3 separate regions of the Homo sapiens genome follow, and all the other regions are linked to region 1. The links come from fine-mapping of genetic effects on gene expression. A gene starts in region 1. Each other region holds a variant in brackets. All regions are shown on one strand. Distances are from middle to middle.

Region 1 (10,253 bases):
TTTTCTCCCCAACCAATTATGCAAATTGGAGCGAATCAGACAACCTTAGTCACACACGTGTATATAAATAGCTAATAGAGGTGGTGCATATGACATCTCTCCTGAGAGAAAAGCCTTAAGGCTAAGAGATTAATTTCCAATTATGAAATTGCAACCATCCAGGAATTGGGCAGGGAGAACTCTCCCATGACATCCCCCGCCCCTTCCCTGCCAAGAACACCTTAAAGGCATAAAGCACTTGCTGCCTGCTTGGCCTGTTCATAAAGATTCACACTTACCAAAGAATTCCTTGGTGCAACCTCAAGCTACAAAATTGTTGCAAAGAATATTTACATTTACATTTTAAGTGCAAATACCTAGAGTGGAAAAATGTATTTTTGATCTGGATAGAGGACAATATTTTTAGGTCCTCCCCCACTGCTAGTAAATTTACAGAATTACAATACCCATAAGGAGCCAATAAGTTTTTAAATAGTGATGTTAAACTAAGTATGTTCAGGCATCTAAGGGGTGTTATGTGCTTTACAAAGAACTGAGAATGTGGTTTTAACAAAATGTTTTCACCCCATATACCACAAACACATGTGCAGTTTCGTATTTGGCTCCTGAGAATATGTCTTACAAAATAGGCCTCAAACCAACACCAAAAGATGACTATCTCTCCTGCTATATGACTGCATCCTGCACTGAGTTAGTTATTCAACAAATGACATTCAGTTATGGCCTAGAAAATATTTGTAGTAGAGACGGGGTTTTACCATGTTGGCCAGGCTGGTCTCGAACTCCTGACTTTGTGATTCGCAAAATATAAAAATTTAGCCTGGTGTGGTGGCGCGTGTCCGTAATCCCAGCTACTCGGGAGGTTGAGGCAGGAGAATTGCTTGAATCTGGGAGGCAGAGGTTGCAGTGAGCCAAGATCACACCACGGCACTCCAGCCTGGGCGACAGAGCAAGACTCTATCCCAAAAAAAAAAAAAAAGAAAAGAAAAAGAAAAAGAAAGAAAGAAAGAAAAGAAAAAGAAAATAATTGTTTAGCCTTGTTTTGGTTTTACTTCATAGTTTCCTGACTTCATTCATGAGGGAAAAGGAATGACACCCAGCAGAGCAGGCCCCGTGGAGCTCCTGCACTTGCAAGCACTCACACCCTGCAGGAAGAACTGGTATACACCCGTACACACAGGAAAGGCCACTGAGAGTCAAACACCACCAGCACCAATTTGTGAACTTTGGTGAGGTGTGAGGTATTATCGCAGGGTAGGGTTTATTTATTGTTGCTGCTGTTTACTGAGGTATAATTTCCACACAGTAAAATTAAACATTTTTAGGCACATAGTTCTCTGAATATTGACAAACTTAGTGATGTGACTACAAAAGCAATCAAAATTCTATCACATAAAAAAATTCTTTGTGCCCCTTTCTAGCCAATCCCCTCCCCTCACCCCTAGTCCTTGGCAAATGCTGATTTGGTTTCTATTTCCATTGTTGCCCTTTCTAGAATATCATATAAACAGAATCACACAGTGTATGGCCATTTGTGTCTGGCTTCGTTCACCTAGAAAAACGCTTTTGAGATTCATCCATGTTGTTGCATGCATGAGTTCTGTATTCCTTCTTACTGCCAAACAGTACTGCATTTACGGACACACTACAATTTGTTTATTCACTAGTTGAGGGACATTTGGATGGTTTCTAGCTTTACATGATTATGAATAAAGCTGCTGTAAAAAGTTGTTGACCGGTTTTTCAGTGGACGTCTGTCTTCATTTCTCTTAGATAAATACTCAGGAGTGAGATTCCTGGGTTGTATGTCACGTGTATATTTAACTTTATAAGAAACTTCAAAACTGACTTCCATAGTGGAAGTCCATTCCCACCAGCAGTGTATGATAGTCCAGCAATATATTATAGCTCTGAATCCTTGTCAGTATCAGATGTTGTCAGTTACCTTGATTTGAGCCATTTTATTAGTAATCCATCAACTTTTGATCTAGGCTGGGCCATAAAATTAAACTTTCTGCTAGCTATATATACTGGGTTGAATAAGTGTCCTTCCGAAATACACATTCACCCGGAACCTCAGAATGTGACCTTATTTGGAAGTAGGATCTTTGCATATGTAATTAAATTTAGATGAAGCCATACTGGGCTGAAGAGGGCCTTAATCCCAATGACTGGTGTTCTTATAAGAAGGCCACGTGACACAGGGACACACAGAGTAGAGCATCCTGTGACAGGAGAGGCAGAGATTGGAGCTAGGCTGCAGCAAGCCAAGGAATACCAGAATCCCCAGCAGCTGTTAGGGCCAAGCAAGGATTCTTCTCAGAGTCTCGGAGAGAGCATGGCCCTGAATACATCTTGATTTCAGACTTCTGACCTCCAGAACTATGTGAGAATACATTTCTGTTTGTCGTAAGTCACCCAGTTTGTGATAATTTGTTAAGGCAGTCCTAGAACTAAAACACTATGAATACAATTTACAGAATACAACAATACAAATAGGTTTATATTTGACTTATATAAAGCTTTCTGAGGATAAAAGCATAATAATTGCTTCTACAAAATTCATTCTAATTAGTTCAAGCATATCACTAGAAGCCTAATTTATTAATATGCATAAAAATTCTTGGGCTAAGTTTTTGACTATTCTATAATTCAACATTTCACTCATTGGACTGAACTTCTGCTAATGAGTCAAGATTAGTGAAGACCACTGTTTATCATGAATTAAGAGCAGTGCAGAAGCAGAATCCCAGTGGTTCCTATCTATGGCCATTGAATATGTGAGACCCACATTTTGCAGAATGTTCTACAAAGGATTAAAAGATGAACTTTCTTTTAGTTTAGTCATTTGTGGTATAATGTACTGGAATGCACCTTTAAAATTTTTTAATTGTAAAATTATGTGTTTATTTTTCCTATCATGAAGTCTAGTTCTGAAAAACAAGACTTCTGTGGTAGAGCCAGTTCTGGTTGTTTCTTAAAGAACAGATCCCTTTTCAGTTTTAGCACAAAGCTCTTCCAGCCCCTGACGAAGAAAATTGTCCCTCTCTCAACCTGTATTAGACTTCCTTGGGGAGGCAGAGGGATCTCCCTCCCCACCTGACCCCAAAACCTTTGAAAGAAAGAAGTTGGTTATTCTGTTACACTATTATTCAATTAGAATTCCACTAATTTAATAACAGAGAATAAAAGAATAGTTACAGTCAATAGCAGGTTGTGGTTTCTGCTGCTAAAACTTTCTGAAAACCTATTGCAAATAGACAGATACTGAGGCAACAATAAGACAGGAGGGCAGGTGCAGATGTGGGAGCAGGAATCTCATGTTTTACATTCATTCCTCTATACTATGTAAACCAGACTTTCTCCCCATGAACAACATAAGGTAATAGCAAGCCTATCAGGTGAACATTAGATATCATTATATGGACTTCTGGGAGGAATCTGGCAGTCTTATGAGCACTTTTCTGTGTTGTGCACTGTGGTTACCAGCTGTACCATGCCTATTTCACAGGAATAGCTGGTGAATATAATCATAACTTCCATAAAATTTGCAGAGCAAAGCAGGTTGTCATCCAAACAGAGTCCAACAATGTTCAGTGATCCGAACAAAAGTCAGGCCCATTTTCACCACTCCTGCTCTCTGATAAGCGTACATTGTCCTTTGAGTGTTTTGGGAGAGCACAGAGTTGACCTATTCTGGGGGACAAGGACTTACAAGATTGGACCACTCTGTTCCAAGTTTGGGCAATTTCAAAGGACAGGGCTTTGGGGAATTGGAACAACTTGTTCAACTTCATTGTGTTTGGGTCTCACTAAACATAGAAACCAGCCTCCCTCTTAATCCCCATCCCACGTGTTGAAAACCATAAACTCAAGTTACCACGAATAAAAGGCCATGGAAGAGTGCCCAGATGCCCTTCGGGATGGGATGACCCAGTTAGGAGGTAACAATGTTTGGGGTTGAGATTGTCCCTCTATTAGAAGCAGACAGAGAAAAAGCTATGACCAAAATGTTTGCATGGCTTAATTAAATATCAACAGATATCTCTATTCACTTTAAAGCTCCAGCACACCAGACAAGGGATCCGAGCTCCGGGCAGGAGCCAAAACCACCATTGCAGATATGCTCCCAGTTTTACCAGCTAATTAGATGTTAAACTTACATTGTAACAATCAACCTGATATTATTGCCTACTGCAGATAGAACTAGAATTCTAATTAGGTCAGAATTCTAGCTGGGATTGTGTAGATGGACAAATTCTTTCAGGGTAGTTTGATATCACTGCTATAATTTATGGTAAAGACAGTTGGGATCATACTGGCAAACTAAGTACCTGCCTACACTCCCTCAGGCCTAAAAATGCCATTGATTATCCCAAAAAAACTGAGAAAATAATCCACTACAGTACGGAAAAAGACAAAATAGGGGCACTAACACACAAGAAGCACTGAAGGCTTTCTGAAAGAGTAATCAGGCCTGATGTTTGTAGTTTTAATGTTTACTTTGCAAACAAAGGTAGAAACAGAGTCTGGAGCTCGGATGCCACCACCAGAGAGGGTGGCTGTTCAGCCTCTCTCCTGTGCAAATTAACCTAATTCTGAACCTGTCTTGGTTTAATTCGCACAATTTCAGGTGCCATGCTAGGTACACCACAAATATACCTCAGGGACCTCAATTGCAAAAACCTGGACTGCAAACGTTGGGGCTGCAGAGTTGACTAGGTTAATAAATTCTTTCTGAGGTAAAGCAGATAACACCCACTAATAAAAAGAATGAAACTTCATCGTCCCATTGGCATCCTCGGGTGTGCAGGTGTTCCTCAGAGCAAAGCCCATGGTGTGCCCCATCGCCAATTCGTGACAAGGCAGGGGGCGGGGGGCGGGGGAAGGAAAAAAGCCTGGGATAAGAAATCAGAGAATACAAGTCGCTTTTAAACAAAAAACAGTGACTGTTAGAGTACACCCACCATTGGGGTAACACGCAATAATCTCTCAGCATCACTGACTCCAGCACAGCTGGTCCCCTGGAAAAGGCACGTTGCCGGAAGGTTTTGTGTGTGACCAAGCAATTGGCCATCCCACGCCTTCGCCCTACCAGATGGGTCCCTGCCCCCGGGAGTCCCCTCCCCCTCCACCCTCCAAACCCAGGCAGCGCCCGCCCCTGCCCCCGCTGATTGACAGGCCGTGCAGCTACTCCTGGGAGCCTGGCTTTCGGGGGCAACCCAGGCAGAAGTGACTATCTCTGCAGCAGCCAATAGAAGCCAGGAGGCGGGGCGGGGAAGCGGCGCGGTCAGGTGCTCCGCTCCAGAGTTGAGCGCAGGTGAGCTCCTGCGCGTTCCGGGGGCGTTCCTCCAGTCACCCTCCCGCCGTTACCCGCGGCGCGCCCGAGGGAGTCTCCTCCAGACCCTCCCTCCCGTTGCTCCAAACTAATACGGACTGAACGGATCGCTGCGAGGGTGAGTCCAGGGGCGTGGGTGGCTTCCCTCCCGGGAACCCACACTGCTCCTCTGGGTCCCTAAAGCAACGTCCCCTCCTTGCCACTGCACATCTAAGAAGCCCAGGCCTCGGTGGGCGGGATGACTGGGAATTGGGAACATAACCTACGCCGCGACCATTCTGGGTGGCTAGGATGGAATCCTGGTGGAGAAGATGGACACCCCCGCCCTTGACGTCTACCCGAGCTACACAAACCTACTCCTTCTGCACTTTCCCTCTTCCGTTTAATCGGTGCCCCGTCCTTCCTGCTCTCCAAGTCTGTTTGTGGAGGAAGGGTTGGAGGGGAGAAAGAACTGGAAAGTACTCAATGAAATGTGGAGCCAGATCCAGGGATTCCACTGTTTTGTGCAGCATTTTGTGCACGAAAAAAAAAAAAATTCTGATTGTTTTCATTCCCCACCCCCCACCTCTGTTTATTGCTCTGTGTCATGGATGTGATGTTGAGTCTTCTTGCCAAACATTCCTAAGCTTTAGACAACACTTAATCTTTGCTTACTTTTGTTGGTCCCAAGAAAGCAGTTTTCTCCTGCTTACACATGTGCCGAATTAATTTGCTAAGATAGATGAAAATGAGGTGTTCCATGTAGTTTATTTCCTCTGCTTTTAGCCTTAAATTACATTTGGTTGATACTAGCCTTCCTTGTTTTAAAAAGGTGGGAGAGAAAATTAGGGGGAGAAAGGACAGAGAGAGCAACTACCATCCATAGCCAGATAGGTGAGTAAATATATTTGCAGTAACCTATTTGCTATTCCTTGCTGCAACTGTGTTTAATGTTCCTTCCAGAATCAGAGAGAGTATTGCCATCCAAGAAATCGTTTTTAAATATGACATTTGAGCTATCATCTTGAGACCAATACCTAAAACAATTTCAGTTTAAGAAATGTCTAGGTATGGTGAAAACACAGTTTAAAACCAGCAAAACAGAATTTATTGCCCTCAGCGAATACCCACAATGTACATATACCTTGTATTTCTGAAAGCAAAGCAAGCATGCCAAGTAGTTTTTATTTACCTGTACCTATAATACAGCAAGGTGAAACAGGATATATTTTTGAAGTTTAAAAATGTCTTCAGGCCGGCTGCGGTGGCTCATGCCTGTAATCCCAGCACTTTGGGGAGCCGAGAAGGGTGAATCACCTGAGGTCAGCAGTTTTGAGACCAGGCTGGCCAACATGGCGAAACCCTGTCTCTACTGAAAATACAAAAATTAGCTGGGTGTGGTGGCGGGCGCCTGTAGTCCCAGCTACTTGGGAGACTGAGGCAGGAGAATTGCTTGAACACGGAAGGCGGAAGTTGCAGTAAGCTGAGATCGTGCCACCGCACACCAGCTTGGGCAACAGAGTGAGACTCCCTCTCAAAAAAAAAAAAAAAAGAAGTCTTCAGCTTAGGAAGATATCAAAAGGCAGTTTCAAGAGATTTATTTGTACAAGTGTGGTTTGATCTAAGTTTTGGTGGGTTTATAAATACCTTCATGCAGGAATGGGTAGAAAAATGAGAGAACAAAAGATCCCTGCTGGATGTGCACGCCTGATGAAAACTGACAAAATTTACATATCTATTGTTTATCCATACAGCGTCTTATTAGCTTTCTTCAATAGAATGAAAGTATTTTAGAAATATACACAGATTAGGGGAAAAGACCAGCAACCTTGATTCACAGAGCTTTAAACCAGGGAAGTGCTTTTACTACACCTATCAATGATAAGATTAAATTTTGACAAATTTTAACATTAGGAAAGTCAACAACAAATTTCAGAATTATATTTCTGTTAATATTTAGTTTAGAATCTAATTATTTAGTTCAACGAATGCTGTGATTTGATTATTAATAAATGAATGCAGATTACTTTTCAATAAATATATCTGGATGTCACAAATGTTATTTCACTTCAAGAAACCAAATTCATCTATTTTCCTCTCTCTTTAGTAATACATCTTTTGTCTGTGATTAACCAAACATAGGGGTTGAAAATAGAAGTGTGCATATACATATATATATAATATATATGTATATGCACCATTATTCGATTTGCTAATGATACTTCATTGTTGCTAGGTTGCCATAGTTGCTCTAGCCATAATGTTAAGGATGTTCACAGGTATTTGACTATAAAAAAGTTTCTGACCAGAAGTCAAAAGTCTGGATCAACCTGAAAATGTTTCTAAAAGTTTTATGTAAATGATGTCATATTTTAAAATGCTGTTGAAGAGCTCACTTAAATAATTCCTTTGAGGGATATTTAGATAAATTCTCAGAAGTGAAAAAGTTGTTTAAATGCAGCTAAACTTATTAGCTTTATTATTCATTTAGCCCCAGGTCTCTTATCTAATACGGAGTTCTGTGACATAATTCTTCCAGGCTGTGATTTATGAATATAACTAGGATTGCTAAGCACTGTTACTCTGAGTTTGGGGTAAAGTATACAAAACAAAATTATTGCCTTTAATTTCTATATGTTTATTCTACAGATTATCTTACACTGAACTGATCAAGTACTTTGAAAATGACTTCGAAATTTCTCTTGGTGTCCTTCATACTTGCTGCACTGAGTCTTTCAACCACCTTTTCTCTCCAACCAGACCAGCAAAAGGTTCTACTAGTTTCTTTTGATGGATTCCGTTGGGATTACTTATATAAAGTTCCAACGCCCCATTTTCATTATATTATGAAATATGGTGTTCACGTGAAGCAAGTTACTAATGTTTTTATTACAAAAACCTACCCTAACCATTATACTTTGGTAACTGGCCTCTTTGCAGAGAATCATGGGATTGTTGCAAATGATATGTTTGATCCTATTCGGAACAAATCTTTCTCCTTGGATCACATGAATATTTATGATTCCAAGTTTTGGGAAGAAGCGACACCAATATGGATCACAAACCAGAGGGCAGGACATACTAGTGGTGCAGCCATGTGGCCCGGAACAGATGTAAAAATACATAAGCGCTTTCCTACTCATTACATGCCTTACAATGAGTCAGTTTCATTTGAAGATAGAGTTGCCAAAATTATTGAATGGTTTACGTCAAAAGAGCCCATAAATCTTGGTCTTCTCTATTGGGAAGACCCTGATGACATGGGCCACCATTTGGGACCTGACAGTCCGCTCATGGGGCCTGTCATTTCAGATATTGACAAGAAGTTAGGATATCTCATACAAATGCTGAAAAAGGCAAAGTTGTGGAACACTCTGAACCTAATCATCACAAGTGATCATGGAATGACGCAGTGCTCTGAGGAAAGGTTAATAGAACTTGACCAGTACCTGGATAAAGACCACTATACCCTGATTGATCAATCTCCAGTAGCAGCCATCTTGCCAAAAGAAGGTAAGGCTGACTGAATGAATGGTGAGCTGAGACTAGATGTGCATTTGCCCAGTGTGATCAAATGAACAGGGATTTCTGTTGCTGCGCCTTTAAAGTAGACTTTGCCTGTGTCATGGTAATATTCTGGGATTTAATCCTCAGACTCTGAAAAGACAAAATCTCTTTTTTCAAAGCCTAATTTTTTTTTCCTTTTTCCTAGAATACTGAAATTGATGTGCTCTATGTATGTATGGCAGTAGGTTTTAACCATTTTGGATCCATAGAATATTATGAAAGCTATAGCCTCCCTTCTCAGAAAAATTGAGATGGAAAGATACATACAAAACTTGAATGCATGTACAGTTATTTCATAGAAGCCCCAAAGCCTTTTATAGGTTCCTAATTTGGACCTGCTTAACAAGGAAGCTGTGGAAGATAAGAAGGAGAAAGAGCTTTGGTCAATCTGAGGTTTATTTTCCTTATAAATGTGGAAAGTAATAACAATACCTTAAACTTTTTACAAACCTCTCCTGGAATCCTTATACCAAACCTGTCACCTCAGTATTGTCTCCATTTTAAAGAGAAGTAAATGACAGGTAAGTGACCTCAAAAGGTTTAACATCCTGAGGTCACAAAATAAGTGACAACATGACTCAGACATGCTCTTTGACATATTTTATCACTTTGCAGGGTTGGTCTTAGGTATCAAATGAGAGAACAGATTTTGAAAAGCTATAATATTTCACAAATGAGAATTCCATCCCTCAGAGGGGAATTAGAATCATATGAAACAGCGAATGTTAAAATATGTGTGTGTTTTACACACACAGTTTTCAGCAAACAGCACTTTTTTTCTGGTTTAAGAAAATTAGCTAGGAGTGGTTGCTCACGCCTATAATCTCAGCACTTTGGGAGGCTGAGGCAGCAGGGTCACTTGAGGCCAGGAGTTTGAGGCCAGCCTGGGCAACATAGCAAGACTCTGTTGCTAAAAAAAAAAAAAAAAAAAATAGCCTGGTGTGGTGACACATGCCTGTGTCCCAGGCTGAGGTGGAAGGGTTGCTTGAGCCCAGGAGTTCTAGGTTACAGTGAGCTATGATCATATCACTGCACTCCTCCTTGGGCGACAGGGAGACACAGTCGAAAGAAAAAAAAGAAAGAAAAAGAGAGACTGAGGGGGAAAGAGAGAGAGAGAGGGAGGGAAGAGAAGGGGGTGAAAGAGAGAGAGAGGAGGGAGGGAAGGAGGAAGGGAAGAGGGAAGGGAAGAGGAAATGGAAGGGGAGAAAATTACATTAACCCTTCGATTTCCTTTATAAAATTGGAATGATGTCCTCTTGTTGCGGTGCAGAAGATAAGGATGCAACCTCAGCAATGGATTTGAAAAACAGGAGGATGAAAGACAGTGCCTGGGTAACCGCATTTGTAGTTATAGGGAGTACTTTGGCAA
Region 2 (10,253 bases), 31 kb before region 1:
CTACCTCAGCCTCCCATAGTGCTAGGATCAAGATTAAGGAGTGACTGGGCAAGTCCAAGCAGCTAGCCAGCCTTGGGTTCTGCAGGTATGGCTGTGATTTTATGCCATTGGTTCTGGTGGTCGTCTTCTACAGGTTAAATATCAATAGGGACAATTCTGGGTCCTATGGCTGTCTAAGGACAACAGCAAAGATTCAAGGAATCTCTGGTGGTTGTCAGCCCAATTCAGGAAGATCAGGTCAGGGGGATTCTAAGAACATGGAAACCCCCCATCCCCTTCTCTGCTTCTGGGGACAGGTTGTCTGTCATTACCCACTGGGCCTTTCCTTCCCTGCCCTTTTTTCCTCTCTCTTTCCTGTACCCTTGAAGATAAAAATTGGAGTCTGCTTTTTAAGATAAAAGTTGGAGGACTTTTCCAACCCTGACAGACTGGTAGGACAGAAACAACTGGTTCAGGAGCCCTTGCCAGCCTCTAGAGAAATCCCAGAACACACAGCCCTGGCACATTAATACCCTGCACAGATCAGAGACTGCTGGCCACGCAGACTCACAAAGCCACAGACTTGTCTTCCACAAGCACATTCTTACCTCAGCCACGAAGTGACCAAGCCATGTGTACTAAGGGGTGAAATCAAAGATATGTACAGGGTATTAAACAAATACCAAGGGCAACAGTTATCTGGAATACAAAGTCAAAATCAGCAACAAGTTCTATGCTCCAGTGCTGATATCAGATACAAGCTTCAAGGACAGTTTCTTTTCAAAGGCTTATTCCAGTATCGTGAGGCTAGCATGAGGTATATGCATTTGCCAGGGGCAAATTTATACTTCTGAATTAACCCATGCAGCAAATGCTATGCATCTGCTCGCAGTCCATTTGCGGTGGATGATGGAGGGGCCCGACTCGTTGTACTCCTGCTTGCTAATCCACATCTGCTGGAAGGTGGACAGTGAGGCCAGGATGGAGCCACCGATCCACACAAAGTACTTGCACTCTGGGGGCACGATATCTTGATCTTCATGGTGCTGGATGCCAGGGCAGTGATCTCCTTCTGCATCCTATTGGGGATGCCAGGGTACATGGTGGTGACGCCAGACAGCACTGTGTTGGCGTACAGGTCTTTGGGGATGTCCATATCACACTTCATGATGGAGTTGAAGGTACTTTCATGGATGCCACAGGATTCCATGCCCAGGAAGGAAGGCTGGAACAGTGCCTCGGACACCGGAACCGCTCATTGCTAATAATGATGGCCTGGCTGTCAGGCAGCTCGTAGCTCTTCTCCAGGGAGGAGGAGGATGCAGCAGTGGCCATCTCCTACTCGAAGTCCAGAGCGACATAGCATAGCTTCTCCTTGATGTTGCGCACGATTTTCCACTTGGCCATGGTGTTGAAGCTATAGCTGCGCTAGGTAGGGATCTTCATGAGGTAGTCAGTAAGGTCCTGGCCAGCCAGGTCCAGATGCAAGATGGTGTGAGGGAGGGTGTGGCGCTCGTAGATGGGCACTGTGTGGGTGACCCCATCTCCAGAGTCCATGACAATGCCAGTGGTGCAACCAGAGCTGTGGAGGGTCAGCACGGCCTGAATGGCCACGTACATGGCCTGGGTGTTGAAGGTCTTAAACATGATCTGAGTCATCTTCTCCCTATTGGCCCTGGGGTTTAGCGGGGCCTCGGTCAGCAGCACCACCTGCTCCTCCAGGGCCACGCACAGCTCGTTGTAGAAAACATGGTGCCAGATCTTCTCCATGTCGTCCCAGTTTGTGACGATGCCATGCTTGATGGGGTACTTCAGGGTCAGGATGCCGCACTTGCTCTGGGCCTGGTCGCCCACGTAGGAGTCCTTCTGGCCCATGCCCACCATCACGCCCTGGTGCCGGGGGTGCCCGATGATGGAGGGGAATATGGCTCGGAGGGCATTGTCCCAGCAAAGCTGCTTTTCACATGCCGGAGCCATTGTCAATGAAGAGCGCGGGGATCTCTTCTTCCATTGCCACTGGCAGAGGAGCACGCAGCAGCGGGAGGACATGGTGCACGTGCTGGTGGTGACGACTGAGCATCTTTATAAATCTTATCATAAAACTGAAAAATATTTTATACAACACTACATAAAAACTTTCTACCTCTTATGGAAAAAAAAAATGCCTCATTACCTGATCTGTTCTCAGCGATTTCCTCCATCTCAGAGCATCAGAGAGAAGAGACCATCGTTCATTCATTCAACAAACATTTATTGAGGGTCTACTATGTGCCTGTGCCAGGCACTGTAACAGGCCTTGGAAAGATAAGACAGCTCAGTGAAAAACACAGCCCAAGTCCCTGCCCTTACTGAGCTTACATTTTATAGGCATTTAGTGGTTAGGAAATACTACAGACTGAATTATATCCACCTCCAACCCCAAATTCATATGTTGAAGCCATAACCCCCAATGGGACTATATGTGGAGACAGGGCCTTTTGGTAGGTAATTAATGCTAAATGGGGTCATAAGGGTGGGGCCTTAACCCAGTAGAACTGGTGTCCTTATAAGAAGAGGAAGAGGCTGGGTGCTGGTGGCTCACACCTGTAATCCCAGCACTTTGGGAGGCTGAGGTGGACAGATCGCAATGTCAGGAGATCAAGACCATCCTGGCTAACACGGTGAAACGCTGTCTCTACTAAAAATACAAAAAATTTACCAGACATGGTCGTGGGCACCTGTAGTCCCAGCTACTAGGGAGGCAGAGGCAGGAGAATGGTGTGAACCCAGGAGGCAGAGGTTGTAGTGAGCTGAGATCACGCCACTGCACTCCAGCCTGGGTGACACAGCGAGACTCCTTCTCAAAAAAAAAAAAAAAAGAAGAAGAAGAAGAAGAAAAGAGATGCCAGAGACTGCTCTCTTTCCACATACACAGAGAGAAAAGGCTGTGTGAGGAAACAGCTAGGAAGCAGCCTCTGGAAAGCCAGGAAGACAGGCTTCACTGGAGCCTCACCCTGAAGGCACCTTGATCTTGGACTTCTCACCTCCAGAACTGCAAGAAAGTAAATTTTTGTCTTGCATAATACCTAGACTGTGGTATTTTATTATGAAAGCCTGAGTAGATTAATGTAAAAAGTGTCAATGGCTACTGTAAAATAGAAGAGGAGAAAGGAAAGAAAGGAAATTGCTCACAGAACAGGAACACTGAATGATTGTAATCACTATTTTGAATTTTTTAAAAGTTATTTTACAAGATCCCTTATTCTTTATGGATTCCAGTAGAGGAAAATCTACAACTTCCCATGATACACCCCTTGATTCCCTGGCTTCCTCAGCACCATCTACAGCCTTTTGCTTCATGGTTATGTCTAATGTTTATCTGCCTCCCGAGGCTCATATACCACTCCCATAAGATGTGCTGGCCTCATTCAGACACCAGCTGTTGCTGCTCAGAGGCTGCTCTAAATATAACTGCATTCCTCTCAGGGTTTTCTCTTTTCTCCAGTGAATCAAATGCTTTGATTCTCAGTTCTGGTTTTAATTGACCAACCAGGTAATTTATTTCCAAATATAAGCAATCTCCCTTCTGTATTTCAGAATCATAAAAGATAGTCTGCTCTCCTTTGACTTTTGAATTAGGTAAGCATATACCCCAGCTAATGGCCACATGGGCCTATCCCCTGATCCCTCAACTAAACTCTGGGTGTTTGTATGTGTTATCTATTGCCATTTAATAAATTACCATAGTATAATGGTTTCAACAACACACATTTATTATCTCCACATCTGTGGGTCAGGAATCCAACTGAGCTGGGCCCCCTACTTCAGGGTCTTTCACAAGGATACAATCATATTGGTGACCAGGGCTAGGGTCTCATCTGAAAGCTTGGCTGGGGAAGGATCCACTTCCAAGCTCACTCAGGTTGTTGGCAGAATTCTGTTCCTCAAAGGCTGCTGGACTGAGGGCCTCAGTTCTTTGCTAGCTGTCAGCCAACAGCCACCCTAAGATCCTTGCCACATGAACCTCTTCTTGCTACATGGGGCTCTTGAACATGGCTATTTCCTTCACCAAAGCATGAAAGCCAAGAAGACAAATAGAGAAAATCTGCTAATGAGACAGAGGTTACATGCTTGTAACATAATTATGGAAATGATAGCTCATCACCTTTGTTGTTATCCTATTAATCAGAAGCAAGTCACAAGTCCAGACCACTCAAGGAAGAGTAGGTTCATATGCAAGGAGGCAGACATAATCAGGGATATCAGGAGGCAGGCATAATCGGGGCTGTCTCAGAAACTTCCTCCCACAGTATTGGTGAGCAGAAAAGAAGCCACTTGTATCCATTACTCATCCCTACATCTCTTCTGCTTACTTTCTTATTTCTTAAGAAAAGGAAGTTTTAGGAAGGTGATACTGGTTTGGCTGTGATCATCAATCTCCTAGACAACATAGGTCAATTCTATGAAATTTCTCCTGCACTCCAGACACCTCTTAACATGAGCCACTTCGATGACCAATAGGTACCCTCTATTAAACCCACCTGACATGGGATGTACATAATGTCTGCCAAAAACTACCCTTCCTTTCTCAGGGAATGAGCCATACTATCAGAATTTCTCAAGCCAGAAACCAAGTTACCCGACTCCTTCCTCTCCATCACTCTGCCTTTATGGAGTAAAATATTAAGCATGTATTTCAAAAAAAGTATAAATTATGTGGAAGGGAATCTATGAATAAGGGTAGCTATTTGGTCATTATGGAGATAGGGTAACGCAACAAGGGAATTTCCATGTGATTTGGGTAAATTAATTGGCATCTCTAAGATATAGTTTTCTCAACTAAGAATGGAGGGATAATAATAGTAGGCATAAATCAAGGAATTGTTGTGAGGATCAGAGGAAATTACATCTGTGAAACGCTTGTATATCTTACATCCCACAAGCCCTCTATATATGTTAGCTACTATATCAGCTGTTAGAGAACCACATTATGGCTGTCATCGTTTGCTCACTAACTCAATAGTGTCTTCTCTCTTACATTGTCCACTTCAGAGACTAAGAAGCTAATTACTCATTTTCCCAGCCTCTCTTGTAGCTGGGGCTTCCCAGGGGACAGAGTTCTCGAAAAGCTTTTGTTTTTCTGATGAGAACATCTTTCTTCCTTGAACAAAGATTCAGTGTCTGCTGTGTCA[G/A]CAACCATCTGTGTCCATGAGGTAGCAAGCATTTAGTTGAACGTGAGTACACTAAGGATGGTGGAGTGGAATCCCTGAGGATTCTGTCAAACAGCAGAACCAATGCCAGCATTCAGTTACCTGAAGGCTCCTTGTTACCTAAGAACATGAAACCTCTCCATGTTTAAGCTACTGTTGATCAGGAATTCTGTTATTTGCAGCTGAAAGCACTCCTAACAGATATATTTGTCAGTAGCCTAGAAGTCAAATATCTGAAATTTTAAGTCCATAAATTTTGGCCAAGATCATAACCTCTGTCAACTCAAGGTTTGAAATCCTGTCTCTTTACACACTGGATAACTTTTTATATAGTGTAAATTCAGAAAAATTATGTGGCCTCTCTAATGTTCTCTGTTCTTCTTGCTAATGTACTATGTTTACCTAAAAAGTGCATCCCTAACAGTGAAAGCAGCCCCAGATATTCCAGGCTCCAATATTATGTCAAAGAAGTAGTAAGAAGAAGAAAGGTAGCAATACTAAAAAGAGGCATAACTTCAGAAAGAGACAACAAACAAAAGAGGAAGGAGAGAAATATAGAGATATAACCATGTAGAACATCAGCCCTTGGTGTCCAAAGTTTTATTTGGTATTTTTATTTTTAGAGATGGGGTCTCATGCTGTTGCCCAAGCTGGAGTGGAGTGGCGTGATCATAGCTTACTGCAGTGTTAAACTCCTCGGCTCAAATGATTCTCCAACCTCCTAAGTAGCTGAAATTATAGCACAAGCCACTGCACTAACTAGTTTTTTTGCTTGTTTGTTTGTTTTTAATAGAGTTGGGGTCTTACCATGTTGCTCAGGCTGACTTCAAGCTCCTGATTTCAAACAGTCTTCCGTCTCGGTCTCCTAAAATGCTGGGATTATAGGTGTGAGCCACTGTGCCCAGGCTAAAGTTCTTACAGTATTGATCTTAGACGTTGCCCTCAAGCATACATTTATTATGTGACTTTCTCCCACATTCTGTCTCTTCCTAAGAATTCTCAAGCGGGATATTTCAGGATCATAAAAGACATATATATATATATATACATAGAGATATCAGACAGGCAATATACAAAGTAGATAAGTGTCTATCCAATGTAAGTTAAGGGCCCAGTGAAAACTTACCTTCTGCAAAATATCTGGTCTATACTCCTGCCTGTAAGTGCCAATACCTGGCTGAAAATGTTATCTTGAGACTTACTAATGTGCAGATGATACAGCAATGGACTGACTCTAGAACTGCAACGGCCACTAGCCACCTGTAGCTATTAGACACTTGAAATGTAGCCAGTGCTGTATATTGAAGTTAAGGGCCCAGTATGTCGAATACATTAAACGAACAAGTCAGCAGAGCTTTAATAAACAATCAGATTAACAGCCCAGTAGGAGAATTACAATCCCATAAGTAGTAGATTTAAATCCTCACTGGTCCCAAGTTGTGGGTCAGCAGAAGCATTTGCCTGTGAATTTTGGGGGCAACAAAGAGCCATCACATCACTTGGTGGTCTCTGTGTGGGTTCCTTTCAAATTTATTCCTATTTAAGAGTAGCAAAAAGAGGCATTTTCCAGATGACAAGATTTTGTGTTTTAGAACACTCTGTAAGCCAAAGCCAAAACCTTCCACATTTTTTTTAAATAATAAAGAAAAAAAGAGAGACATATACTTGAGTGTAGAACTACTACTCAAATTTGAAAGATGTTTAACTCAAACAAACGCTCTAAGTATAGGGATCTCCTAGCAGGGCTTCTCCCTCTCTTTGCAGCAGAAACTGAGCTCTTCCAGAGCCTTCAGGTCTTCAGCCAGCTTAGTTAGTATAAAAGGGAGGCAAATACTCACACAAGCACTAAACTCTGAATGCAAAACAAAAGAGTTCCCTTCTCCCCCAAATCAACTGGTGAATAGCCAACAGGAAGATCCTCTAGATGACTATCTTTGTGTGAATTAGAAATTGGAATTTCAGGGAAGCCATCCATAGAGGAGCAGAAAGCTGAGAATACACCTCCTTTGCATGTGGACAGCATCCCAAAAGACGGAACCAAGAGTCAGAAGATAGAATGCTGTGGTGGTTAAAGGTTGCTAAGGAATCTCCACCTCCAGAAAAAAGTATTCCTTTGCTTGTGTGCTTCCTTGCGTTCTTACCCAAGTTGCGTAAGAACTTATCCCAGGGAAACGTGGCCTGTTTCCTTGGCAGTGCCTCTATCTGTGTCCTCACAAAAGAACACTGACTCACTTGGTAGAAAAGACAATGTGATACCCTGATGCTGGTGAAACTGTTCACTGTAAGAGTGCAGTCAACTCTTAAATTCAGTAGGTTCCAATGCTTGACTTTGGGATTTGGCCAGAATGATATGTTCCAGTTCCATCTCCCTCCTACTGTCTGTGAATTGGTCACTTTATTTGCTATCACGGAAGACACAATTGGTTGCTTTTCCCAAAACTATTACACCATATTTTTTCCTTGCTTGCAGAATAGTTAGAGGCTAAAATTGCCAGATACTTATTTCCTAAGCATCCGTGAAGTCTATAGTGGATTTTTGGAAAAGGTTTTCTCTCTGTAAATGGAAACACTGGCAAAGAGATGCCCCATTTCATTCCACTTTAGTTTACAATGGCTGATATAACAAATTACCACCAACTTGGCGGCTTAAACCAACAGATGTTTATTTTCTCACAATTCTGAAGGACAGACATCCAAAGTCAGTATCACTGGGTCCAAATCGAGGTGTTAGCAGGGCCGCACTCCCTCTGGGGCCCATGCCTTGCCTCTTGCAGCTTCTTATGGCAGTAGGCATTGCTTAGTGTCTACATCACTCTAATTTATGTGTCTGTGGTAACATTGCCTTCTCTCTTCTGTGTCTCAAATCTTCCTCTGCCTCCTTTTTGTAAAGATACTTGCGATAAATAATTAGCTGGGCATGGTGGCATGCACCTGTAGTCCCAGCTACGTGGGAGTCTGAGGTAAGGGAATTGCTTGAACCCAGGAGGCAGTGGTTGCAGTGAGCCAAGATCACACCACTGCACTCCAGCCTGGCGACAGAACAAGACTCCATTTCAAAAAACAAACACACCCCAAAAAAATACTTGTGATAGCATATAGGGACCACTCAGATAACCCAGGATAACCTCGCCATCTCAAGATCCTTAATCACTTCTGCAAACTCCCTTTTTGCCATATAAAATAACATTGCCAATTACCAGGGTGATATGGTTTGGCTGTGTCCCCACCAAAATCTCATCTTGAATTCCCGCATGTTGTGGGAGGGATCTGATGGGAGGTAGTTGAATCATGGGGGCAGGTATTTCCCATGCTATTGTTGTGATAGTAAGTCTCAGGAGATCTGATGGTTATTACAAAGGGGAGTTTCCCTGCACAAGCTTTCTTCTCTTGTCTGCCACCATGTGAGACATGCTTTCTACCTTCCACCATGATTGTGAGGACTCCCCAGCCACGTGAAACTGCAAGTCCATTAAACCTTCTTTTTTTTGTAAATCGCCCAGTCTCAGGTACATCTTTATCAGCAGCATGAAAACGGACTAGTACAGTAAATTGGTACCAGTAGAGTGGGATGTTGCTGAAGATACCTGAAAATGTGGAAGCGACTTTGGAACTGGGTAATAGGCAGATGTTGGAACAGTTTGGAGGGCTCAGAAGAAGATAGGAAAATGTGGGAAAGTCTGGAACTTCCTAGATACTTGTTGAATGGCTTTGACAAAAATGCTGATAGTGATATGAACAACGAAGTCCAGGCTGAGGTGGTCTGAGATGGAGATGAGGAACTAGGGAACTGTAGCAAAGGTGACTCTTGTTATGTTTTAGCAAAGAGGCAGGTGGCATTTTTCCCCTGCCCTAGAGATTTATGGAACTTGAACTGGAGAGAGATGATTTAAGGTATCTGGCAGAAGAAATTTCTAAGGAACAAAGCATTCAAGAGGTGACTTGGGTTCTGTTAAAGGCCCTCAGTTTTATAAGGAAAGAAGAGCATAAATGTTTGAAAAATTTGCAGCCTGACAATGCAATAGAAAAAAAAAATCCCATTTTCTGAGGAGAAATTCAAGCCAGCTGCAGAAATTTGCATCAGAAACGAGGAGTCAAATGTTAATTTCCAAGACAGTGGGGAAAATGCCTCCAGCCATGTCAGAGATCTTCATGGCAGCCCCTCTGATCACAGGCCTAGAGGCCTAGAAAGAAAAAAGGGTTTCATGGGCTGGGCCCAGGGTCCCTGTGCTGTGTGCAGCCTAGGGACTTGGTGCCCTGTGTCCCAGCTGCTCCAGTCATGGCTAAAAGGGGCCAAGGTACAACTGAGGCTGTTGCTTCAGAGGGTGGAAGCCCCAAACCTTGGCAGCTTCCACGAAGTGTTGAGCCTGCTGGTACACAGCAGTCAAAAATTGAGGTTTGGGAACCTCCACCTAGATTTCAGAGGATGTACGGAAACACCTGGATGTCCAGAAGTTTGCTGCAGAGGTGGGGCTCTCATGGAGAACCTCTGTAGGGCAGTTTGGAAGGGAAATGTGGGGTCAGAATGCCCACACAGAGTCCCTATTGGGGCACCACCTAGTGGAGCTGTGAGAAGAGGGCCACCATCCCCCAGACCCCAGAATGGCAGATCCACAAACAGTTTGCACCATGTGCCTGGAAAAGCTGCAGACACTCAACACCATTCCATGAAAGCAGCCAAGAGGGAGACTGTACCCTGCAAAGCCACAGGGGCTGAGCTGCCCAAAACCATGGGAACCCACCTCTTGCAACAGCATAACCTGGATATGAGACATGGAGTCAAAGGAGATCATTTTGGAGCTTTAACATTTGACTACCCTGCTAAATTTCAGACTTGCATGGGGCCTGTAGCCCCTTTGTTTTGGCCTATTTATCCCATTTGGAATGGCTGTATTTACCAAATGCCTGTATCCCCATTATATCTAGGAAGTAACTAAGTCGCTTTTGATTTTGCAGGCTCATAGGTGGAAGGAACTTGCCTTGTCTCTGATGAGACTTTGGTCTGTGGACTTTTGAGTTAATGCCGAAATGTCTTAAGACTTTGTGGAACTGTTGGGAAGGCATGATTGGTTTTGAAATGTGTGGACA
Region 3 (9,773 bases), 44 kb before region 1:
TTAATGTCTTCCCACTCTATTCTCTTGTTAAAAGCACTATAAGAGACCTGAGTTAGCAAAAAAATTATTATTCAGGAGAAAAGCACTATCATAATCTAAATGATTAATACATTAAATGCCATTAAAATGAAGAGCTTCTGTTCATCAGATGGGTATTAGGAGAATGAAAAGGGACAGCATCAGACTGGAAAAGGATATTTGAGACACATGTAGTTGTAAAATAAATTATATCCAAAATGTAAAAAGAAAACCCTACAAATAAGGAAAACAGACAATCCATTTCTTTGATCATCAAAAAATTTCAAAGGCACTTCATACAGGCAATTCACATACACACAGACATACACAAAATACCCAGATGACCCATTAGCATTCAAAAGATGCTCAATTTTATTGCTTATCTGACAAAAGCAAATGATAATCTCAGAGCTACTACACAGATCTATCAGAATGACTAAAATTAAGTCTGGAGAAATAAAAAGTTCTGGTAAGGATATGAAGGAAGGGGAACTGTCATGCACCACTGGTGGAGTGTCAACTGGTGCTCACTTCACAGCACTGTTTGGTAATATCTGCTAAAGCTAACATGCCTCTGGGAGCAATTCACTCCAGGGCATGCACCTAGCAGATACAAGTGCACACATCTATCAAAATACTTGTACAATAATGTCCCTAGCAAAGTTGTTCATCATAGCCATTAACTGGATACAGCCCAAATGTCCTTCAACTATAGAATAAACTGTGCTATCCTCACACAAAGGAATGTCACAAAGCAATAAGACACATAAACTAGTGGTACATATATGAACATGAATAGATCGCAAAATCATATTTTGAGCAAAAAAGAAAAACTAGACATGAAAAAAATACATAGTATATGACTCCTTTTAGCAAGCTAAGAAAGTCAAAACTGGCCTATATAAATAGAAATAATAGTGGCTATTATGAAAACACTTAGGACTGTAAGGTCCCCCAACACCACCCCCAAACTAAAAAAAGTGCTAAGAGTCCAAAGAAGGACTCAGACCTAAGTCCAGCATGAGGAGTAGATGAGTTTATTAGGACTTACATACGGGGCACTCTGGGATGGCGGCAGGATAGCTCTGGAGATCTGCCCCACCTCCCATCCATAAACTGCTTTTAAGCTAATTTCCTGGCTCTTTGCCTACGTGTTTGAACAATGAGACTGTTTTTCTTGGTAGTTCCTCAGAAACTCTCTGGGAGGTTTGGCTTCTCAGGGACACCTGCTCCTCAGCTCGGCACCAGGGTCTTGGCTCACTGTCCGGCCCTCAGAGTTCAGGCAACAGACTTATACCCTTCGGTAACCTGTTGGGGGACCTGTCACAGTACAGTGGCTACCTTTTGAATGGTACTGCCTGAGAGGAACCCTCTCATGTGGAAGCCTTCCAATGTGCCATCAATATTCTACATCTCGATCCTGATCTCCATATGGATGTATACCCATGTAAAATTCAGTTAAAATGTGTGCCATATACTACAGTAAGTTATACCTCAACTAAAACAAAAGCTGTTCTCCCTGAGGACAGAGAAGAAGGAGCCATTAGTTGTGATGGGGGTTTAGAATGTCCTCATACTAAAAACGTACGTCTCCCATCTCATGTCTGTGAGATATTTCCATATTTTCAAAGCCTTCATTTAAAAATCTATAAATAAGTGTTCCTTTTTAAATGAGAGAGCACAGGACTTAGGCTCTGGGTGAAACACTGTTCATTCAAGTAACAAACTGTGTGCCTGACACTGGGTTTTCAGTGGTGAACAAGGTAGCTTTTGTCCCTGCCATTTCAGGGAGTGGAGTCTAGCATGGAAAAGAGATAAGAAATAAACAAGCAAATAATGGCCACAAATTCTCATAGGTAAGTACAGTGAAGAAAACCAAAAGTACTCTATGAGAATAGAGAATAAAAGTGGAGGATCATAGTCAGGGAAGGCCTCTCTAAAGAGGTAACATTTAAGCCGACCTGGAGGCACTGGCCATGGAAATGCTGCGAGAAAAGCATTCCAGGCAGCAGGGCTGAAGGCTGTGACTCTGGAAAGGCCTTGTCTTGTCGTGTTGGAGGAGCCTGAAGGATTTTGTTGGTATGGCTGAGGCACAGGGAGTGAGGGTGAGCACAGTTTAGGATGAGGTTGGAAGGCAGGTGGCGGAGGAAGGCAGGCTCAGTAGAACCTATTATTAATAGGCCAGGCTAGGGGGTTTGAGTTCATTTTAAGGGTTTCAAAAAGGGAATTATATGACCCAATTCATTGGTAAATCCTAACACAAACAAGAAGTTTCCTAATACAAAGCTACAGCCCAAAATGTCCAGATCCTCTGTAGCACTGGGGCTTGACGGGTCTTGCCCACATTAGGCTTGAAGATAGCTTTTGATAGCCTCGTGCTCCTCACTGCAATCCTATCTATTAACACCAGAAGAATTCTCAATATCCAACATCAATATGCAGTGTCTTGTGGTTCTAAAGTTTTTTTTTACTTCCCCTCCCCACGTCATTTAGAAAGCCTCAATGCAGAAAAAGGGGAACAGAGCAGGTGATAAAGGATGATAAGTCAGTCAGTGATTCAGGGAAACATTCATTTAGCTGCTGGTACAGAGTGTCCCTGCCAGAAGCCACCACGCTGAGCGTCATTGAACATTTGGCAGCCTTTCCCCTTAAAT[T/G]TATGCAATCTGAGAAAGGGAAAATTTCAAGCAAAAAGTTTTCTGTCAAGCTCATTCATCTGCACCTTTCAAAGAAAGTCTGGGCAAATGTTTTTGGAGTTGATTCATGAGCTTTTTATGTCTCTAAAAGGAAGCCATATTTAAGGTTAGTCGTGTGTATGTGTACGCAAGCACATTTGGTACAGGTTGGAAATAGGAAATCCAAAATAGGCAGAAATGGATGAAACACTTTGTGCTAAAAAATTCATCCACAATACCTCCTTGGTGCTTTTGTGTTATTTTCCATTCTCAACCAATAATTGAGTTAGAAAACTTTTAGGGTTGGACAGGACTATGGGGCCTCCTTGACTAGTTGCTATCATTAGGAAAATCATTACTGTTCCCCAAACAATCTTTGGATTTGCCAGTAGGGTATTTTATTCTTAAAACAAGATTTATAGTTTCCGTACAAAGCTGCCAAGTTCAACACCTTGATAATCCATCTGATGTGCTGTTGTGGATGCTGTAGTCCCAGTTCCCCACTTCAGAGTCCCAGCTCCCCACTTCAGAGTCCCAGCTCCCCACTTCAGAGTGGAAACACTCATGCCCCCAGATGTTAGGAAGGTTGGTGGGTCATGACTCGCTGCTGAGTGGCCAGGCATTGCACTCAGCTGGAGAGATGCTCCCCACCCAAGGTCTCACCCTCCTCAGGGACAGCCTGCATCCAGTGACTAGTCAAGGAAGGCCTTCCCTTGGGCCACTCCAGCTCCAGAGCTATCCCTGTGGGATAGGCTGAGGCCCGGTATTTCAGTTCAACTCTGCCTTTATCCCCAACAGGTAAGGACTCTAAAGTCTCCCTAGTAAACCTCCTGCATGTACATCTCCCTCTCAGAGTCTAAGTCCTAGAAAAACTAACCTGACACTTACATCATCCTCAATAGCTTCTTCCATCACTTTGAGCGCCCCGGAATTGTACAACTCTTTTCCATCAATCGCTGCTGTTTCATTCTTAAGATGGATTGGTTATGCTAGGGGTTAGCATATTTTCCAAAAGCAGTGCAGCAAAGTTCTTCATGCTTTCTTTGTGCTGTCCTGCTGAGTTCAGGTCAGGGGTAGGTAGGGTAGACGTGCAGGTGACTTGGCACAAAGTTCCTCAGTGGAGAAAGGAGGGCTTCTCTCAACCATCCCTGTGGAGTGAGGAGGACAATGGATGCCTGTTCAGCTGTTGTCAGGAGCCTTCATGAAAAACACGGGTCTATAACAGGGAGGGTAGAACCCAAATTCTGGCCCATGTGCCACCCTCAGGCCACCTCAAAAGATGTCACCACCTCCCTGTCAACCTTGTATATGAGAAAGGGATGAAGATTGTGCAAGCGACTTTAGACAAGTTACTATAGTCCCTACAACTCAGTTTCCTCTCCTGTAAAATGGGCATAAAAATCCACTTTTGTCATGAGGACTTAATAAGATAATAACAGTAACAATTATTATTGGAGGGCCGGTTAATAACTACATTCACAAGTTTTGCTGCCACAAGACCTAGGTTTAAACCCCAGCTCTGCTGCTTGGTAAACTTGTGGTCTTGGACAGTTTTTTTAAACCTAAGTTTTGGTTTCCACATTTATCAAAAGTAAAGGATGATAGTATCTGTCTCAGAGAGTTAGGAGGGATTGAATGAGAAAGAGTATCAAGTGCTGGGTACATAGGAAGTCCTCACCCAGAGCTCTTTATGCATCAGGCCCCACACAGAGCACCTGGCATTTGTACCCTCAGTCTTCATGATGGCACCTTCACTGTTTCCATTCTTCAGAAAGAATAGTCAGCATTTTTTGAGTGCTTACACCGTGTCAAGAGCTCTTAAAAGTTCTTTACATTCTTTTTTTTTTTTTTTTTTTTGAGACGGACTTTTGTTCTTGTTGCCCAGGCTGGAGTGCAATGGTGTGATCTCAGCTCACCGCAACCTCCGCCTCCCAGGTTCAAGAGATTTTCCTGCCTCAGCCTCCCCAAGTAGCTGGGATTACAGGCATGTGCCACCATGCCCAGCTAATTTTATATTTTTTAGAAGAAATGGGGTTTCACCATGTTGGTCAGGCTGCTCTTGAACTCCCAACTTCAGGTGATCCGCCCTCCTCGGCCTCCGGAACTGCTGCGATTACAGGCTTGAGCCACTGCACCTGGCCAAGTTCTTTACATTCTTATTTAATTCTCTCTATGCTCTTATGATGAAGGCACTGATACCCACATTTTACATGTAAGGCAACTAAAGCCCAGAAAAGCTAAGTCCTTGGTACTCAAAGCATGTTCTACGCACTGCAGCATCTGCATCTGCATCCCGGGAGTATCTGCATCCCCCGTGGAGCTGGTTAGAGACGCAGAGTCTCAAGCGCCACCCCTGGCCTACTGAAACAGAATCTGCCTTTTAACAAGATCCTCCCTTGATTCCCAGTACTTTAAAGTTTAAGAAGCACTCAAGATCAACCGCCTAATATATCCCCAGCAGGGCTATGATTGCAGAGCACATACTTTTAACTGCCTCTGTGTATGAAATGCCCATCAAAAAAAAGTGCTCAAAGCATATAATTTTCCTTCCCCCAGCAATTCATTTGACTGAGCTTCCTCCTCTGTTCCTGTCCACAGTCCATTCTTACCCACTGTGCTGGCCTTGCTGTTTTCGATAGAATCTCCAGGTATTGCTGCTATGCTCCAGGTTCTGATAAACTTCCGCCCAGGGTCATTCCAAATATCTCTATTAAAAGTGCTTCTGAATAAGCTACAATGTGATTTCCAGAAAGGCAATTATTCCAGGAGTACACCAGTGTTCTGAGAATAGCCACTCCTAGCTTTACTGGGAGTAACAGGATGGTCTCAGACAGGCATTAGTGCCAGAAGCTGCCATGTGGATAATCTTTCCCTGAGAATGAAGGCAATCAGGAGAAAAGAAGAGCTGAAATGCTGAAAGAGAAGAAGAGGGATGGGAAGTGAGTTTAATGTTATTATTTGAGTGCCTAGACCAAACTATACCTGATACTCATATCCCCTGGACTTTTCAGATGCCTGAAGCAACAGATTTTCCTCTTCCTCAAACAAGCTTAAGTGGGGTTTCTTCACTCTCCACTGAGTGGCTGACTGAAAAATAAAGAAAACATAATATTTCTGTGGGATCGGTGGTGATATCCCCTTTATCATTTTTTATTGTGTCTATTTGATTCTTCTCTCTTTTTTTCTTTATTAGTCTTGCTAGCGGTCTATCAATTTTGTTGATCCTTTCAAAAAACCAGCTCCTGGATTCATGAATTTTTTGAAGCATTTTTTTGTGTCTCTATTTCCTTCAGATCTGCTCTGATTTTAGTTATTTCTTGCCTTCTGCTAGCTTTTGAATGTGTTTGCTCTTGCTTTTCTAGTTCTTTTAATTGTGATGTTAGGGTGTCAATTTTGGATCTTTCCTGCTTTCTCTTGTGGGCATTTAGTGGTATAAATTTCCCTCTACACACTGCTTTGAATGCGTCCCAGAGATTCTGGTATGTTGTGTCTTTGTTCTCGTTGGTTTCAAAGAACATCTTTATTTCTGCCTTCATTTCGTTATGTACCCAGTAGTCATTCAGGAGCAGGTTGTTCAGTTTCCATGTAGTTGAGCGGTTTTGAGTGAGATTCTTAATCCTGAGTTCTAGTTTGATTGCACTGTGGTCTGAGAGATAGTTTGTTATAATTTCTGTTCTTTTACATTTGCTGAGGAGAGCTTTACTTCCAACTATGTGGTCAATTTTGGAATAGGTGTGGTGTGGTGCTGAAAAAAATGTATATTCTGTTGATTTGGGGTGGAGAGTTCTGTAGATGTCTATTAGGTCTGCTTGGTGCAGAGCTGAGTTCAATTCCTGGGTATCCTTGTTGACTTTCTGTCTCGTTGATCTGTCTAATGTTGACAGTGGGGTGTTAAAGTCTCCCATTATTAATGTGTGGGAGTCTAAGTCTCTTTGTAGGTCACTCAGGACTTGCTTTATGAATCTGGGTGCTCCTGTATTGGGTGCATATATATTTAGGATAGTTAGCTCTTCTTGGTGAATTGATCCCTTTACCATTATGTAATGGCCTACAAAGCTGGAGGCATCACACTACCTGACTTCAAACTATACTACAAGGCTACAGTAACCAAAACAGCATGGTACTGGTACCAAAACAGAGATATACATCAATGGAACAGAACAGAGCCCTCAGAAATAATGCCGCATATCTACAACTGTCTGATCTTTGACAAACCTGAGAAAAACAAGCAATGGGGAAAGGTTTCCCTATTTCATAAATGGTGCTGGGAAAACTGGCTAGCCATATGTAGAAAGCTGAAACTGGATCCCTTCCTTACACCTTATACAAAAATCAATTCAAGATGGATTAAAGACTTAAACGTTAGACCTAAAACCATAAAAACTCTAGAAGAAAACCTAGGCATCACCATTCAGGACATAGGCATGGGCAAGGACTTCATGTCCAAAACACCAAAAGCAATGGCAACAAAAGCCAAAATTGACAAATGGGATCTAATTAAACTAAAGAGCTTCTGCACAGCAAAAGAAACTACCATCAGAGTGAACAGGCAACCTACAAAATGGGAGAAAATTTTCGCAACCTACTCATCTGACAAAGGGCTAATATCCAGAATCTACAATGAACTCAAACAAATTTACAAGAATAAAACAAACAACCCCATCAAAAAGTGGGCGAAGGACATGAACAGACACTTCTCAAAAGAAGACATTTATGCAACCAAAAAACACATGAAAAAATGCTCACCATCACTGGCCATCAGAGAAATGCAAATCAAAACCACAATGAGATACCATCTCACACCAGTTAGAATGGCAATCATTAAAAAGTCAGGAAACAACAGGTGCTGGAGAGGATGTGGAGAAATAGGAACACTTTTACACTGTTGGTGGGACTGTAAACTAGTTCAACCATTGCGGAATTCAGTGTGGCGATTCCTCAGGGATCTAGAACTAGAAATACCATTTGACCCAGCCATCCCATTACTGGGTATATACCCAAAGGACTATAAATCTTGCTGCTATAAAGACACATGCACATGTATGTTTATTGCGGCACTATTCACAATAGCAAAGACTTGGAACCAACCCAAATGTCCAACAATGATAGACTGGATTAAGAAAATGTGGCACATATACACCATGGAATACTATGTAGCCATAAAAAATGATGAGTTCATGTCCTTTGTAGGGACATGGATGAAATTGGAAATCATCATTCTCAGTAAACTCTCGCAAGAACAAAAAACCAAACACCGCATATTCTCACTCATAGGTGGGAATTGAACAATGAGATCACATGGACATAGGAAGGGGAACATCACACTCTGGGGACTGTGGTGGGGTGGGGGGAGGGGGGAGGGATAGCATTTGGAGATATACCTAATGCTAGATGACGAGTTAGTGGGTGTAGCGCACCAGCATGGTACATGTATACATATGTAACTAACTTGCACAATGTGCACATGTACCCTAAAACTTGAAGTATAATAAAAAAAAAAGAATAATTTGGGCTTTTAATAAGACAGTGGAATCCACTGGAATGGAAAAAAAAAAGAAAACATAATAGATACATATGTAAAGTCCTGTATTTATTTATTTATTTATTTATTTATTTATTTATTTATTTATTTATTTATTTACTGAGACAGGGCCTCACTCTGTCACCCAGGGTGGAGTCCAGTGGTGTGATCACAGCTCACTGAAGCCTCAACCTCCTAGGTTCAAGGGATTCTCCCACCTCAGCCCCTCCAAGGTAGCTGGCACTACAGGTGTGCACCACCACACCGGGCTAATTTTTTGTATTTTATTTGTAAAGATGGGGTCTTACTATGTTGCCCAGGCTAGACAACTCCTAGGCTCAAGTGATCCTCCTGCCTCAGCCTCTGAAAATGCTGGGATTACAGGTATGAGCCACCATGCCCAGTCACTGTTTGTTTTAAAAATGTAAATGCACAGGGAGAAAGAGAAGAGTTTGGAGAAGAGATAATAGAAGTTTGAGAGCCTTAGTTAATCAGCAACGCAGTATGTGTAAATACGGGGGAAGGGCAAAATCTGCTGTCTATGAGTTTCTGTTTAAAATGGTAGATGAAGGACATATATTTATTGCCCATCCAATCCCCAGAAATCTCCTGGAAATTACACAGAAGGTCATCAAAGGAAATATATATAATAGCCCTGCAACCCAATAAAGCATATCAACAGCTGTCTAGAAAATCTAAGTCACTTCTGGAATGCAGAAAGAAGTCTAACAGAGAAGCTAGAAATGACACAGCCTCAACAGATGACATGGAGAGATGAAGGCTACAGTGGATATGGGAGGATTCTTTCCAGCTGCGTCTAAGAGGCAATTCAAGCTTAGAGTCAATAAATATAAAAAGAAGTGGCAGGAAGTTAAAGATATGCATTAGAAAGAGTTGGAGCCAATTGAGCCCATCATCATCACTATTGCTGGCCCTATTTGCAGAATTGCCCCAAGGCCAAATTCCTAGGACTTGTCTTACCTGGTAAGGACTCCTAATGGGATTTGGGGAGCCCATCAGAGCCTCCGTAATCATACCTGACCTCCACTGAACACATGAATGAGAAAAAAAGTTTACTTCCTAGTTATGATGGAGCATATTTCCCAGTATCTTCACTGAAGAAGTGGAGCATGGAAGGTAAGTTTTACAAGATCTTGCATGTTTGAAAATGTCTTTATTGCACCTTCACACTCACATAATAGTTGGTTTGTGGAAATTTATTCAGGGTTTTGATGGCATCACTCCATTGCTTTCCAGCTTCTAGAAGGCCTATGTCATTCTAAATTCTGACCCTTTTACGTAAACTGTATTTTCTCCTGGAAGCTTTTAGGGCTGCTTTGTCTCAACTGCTCTGAGTTTCATGTATTTGATTTCTTATAAGTCCTTTCAACCTAGAAATTCATATCCTTCCATTGTGGACATTTTTCTTGAAGAGAGTGTATTAGTTCATTCGCGTGCTGCAAACAAAGACATACCCAACTGGGTAATTTATGAAGGAAAGAGGTTTAATGGACTCACCATTCAACATGGCTGGGAAGGCCCCACAATCATGGTGAAAGCCA

The links.
Region 2: its variant is fine-mapped to the expression of ENPP5 in tibial nerve (GTEx, PIP above 0.99).
Region 3: its variant is fine-mapped to the expression of ENPP5 in fibroblasts (GTEx, PIP 0.97). The same link has a PIP of 0.9 or more in aorta.

The regions. Positions count from the first base shown.
Region 1 is chr6:46,166,011-46,176,263 of GRCh38, reverse strand. It overlaps ENPP5 (ectonucleotide pyrophosphatase/phosphodiesterase family member 5), which reads left to right and starts at 5,284. Exons shown (of 5, transcript NM_001290072.2): 1 at 5,284-5,456; 2 at 6,150-6,211; 3 at 7,967-8,830. The coding sequence starts at 8,002. RefSeq lists a silencer at 5,053-5,112.
Region 2 is chr6:46,196,715-46,206,967 of GRCh38, reverse strand. It overlaps the pseudogene ACTG1P9. Among named protein-coding and RNA genes, the nearest start is that of ENPP5, 31 kb to the right of the region's middle. The variant G/A (reference allele first, on the strand shown) is at 5,151.
Region 3 is chr6:46,210,647-46,220,419 of GRCh38, reverse strand. LOC105375079 (a long non-coding RNA gene) reads right to left here and starts at 1,115. Exons shown (of 5, transcript XR_001743802.3): 1 at 1,070-1,115. The variant T/G (reference allele first, on the strand shown) is at 2,673.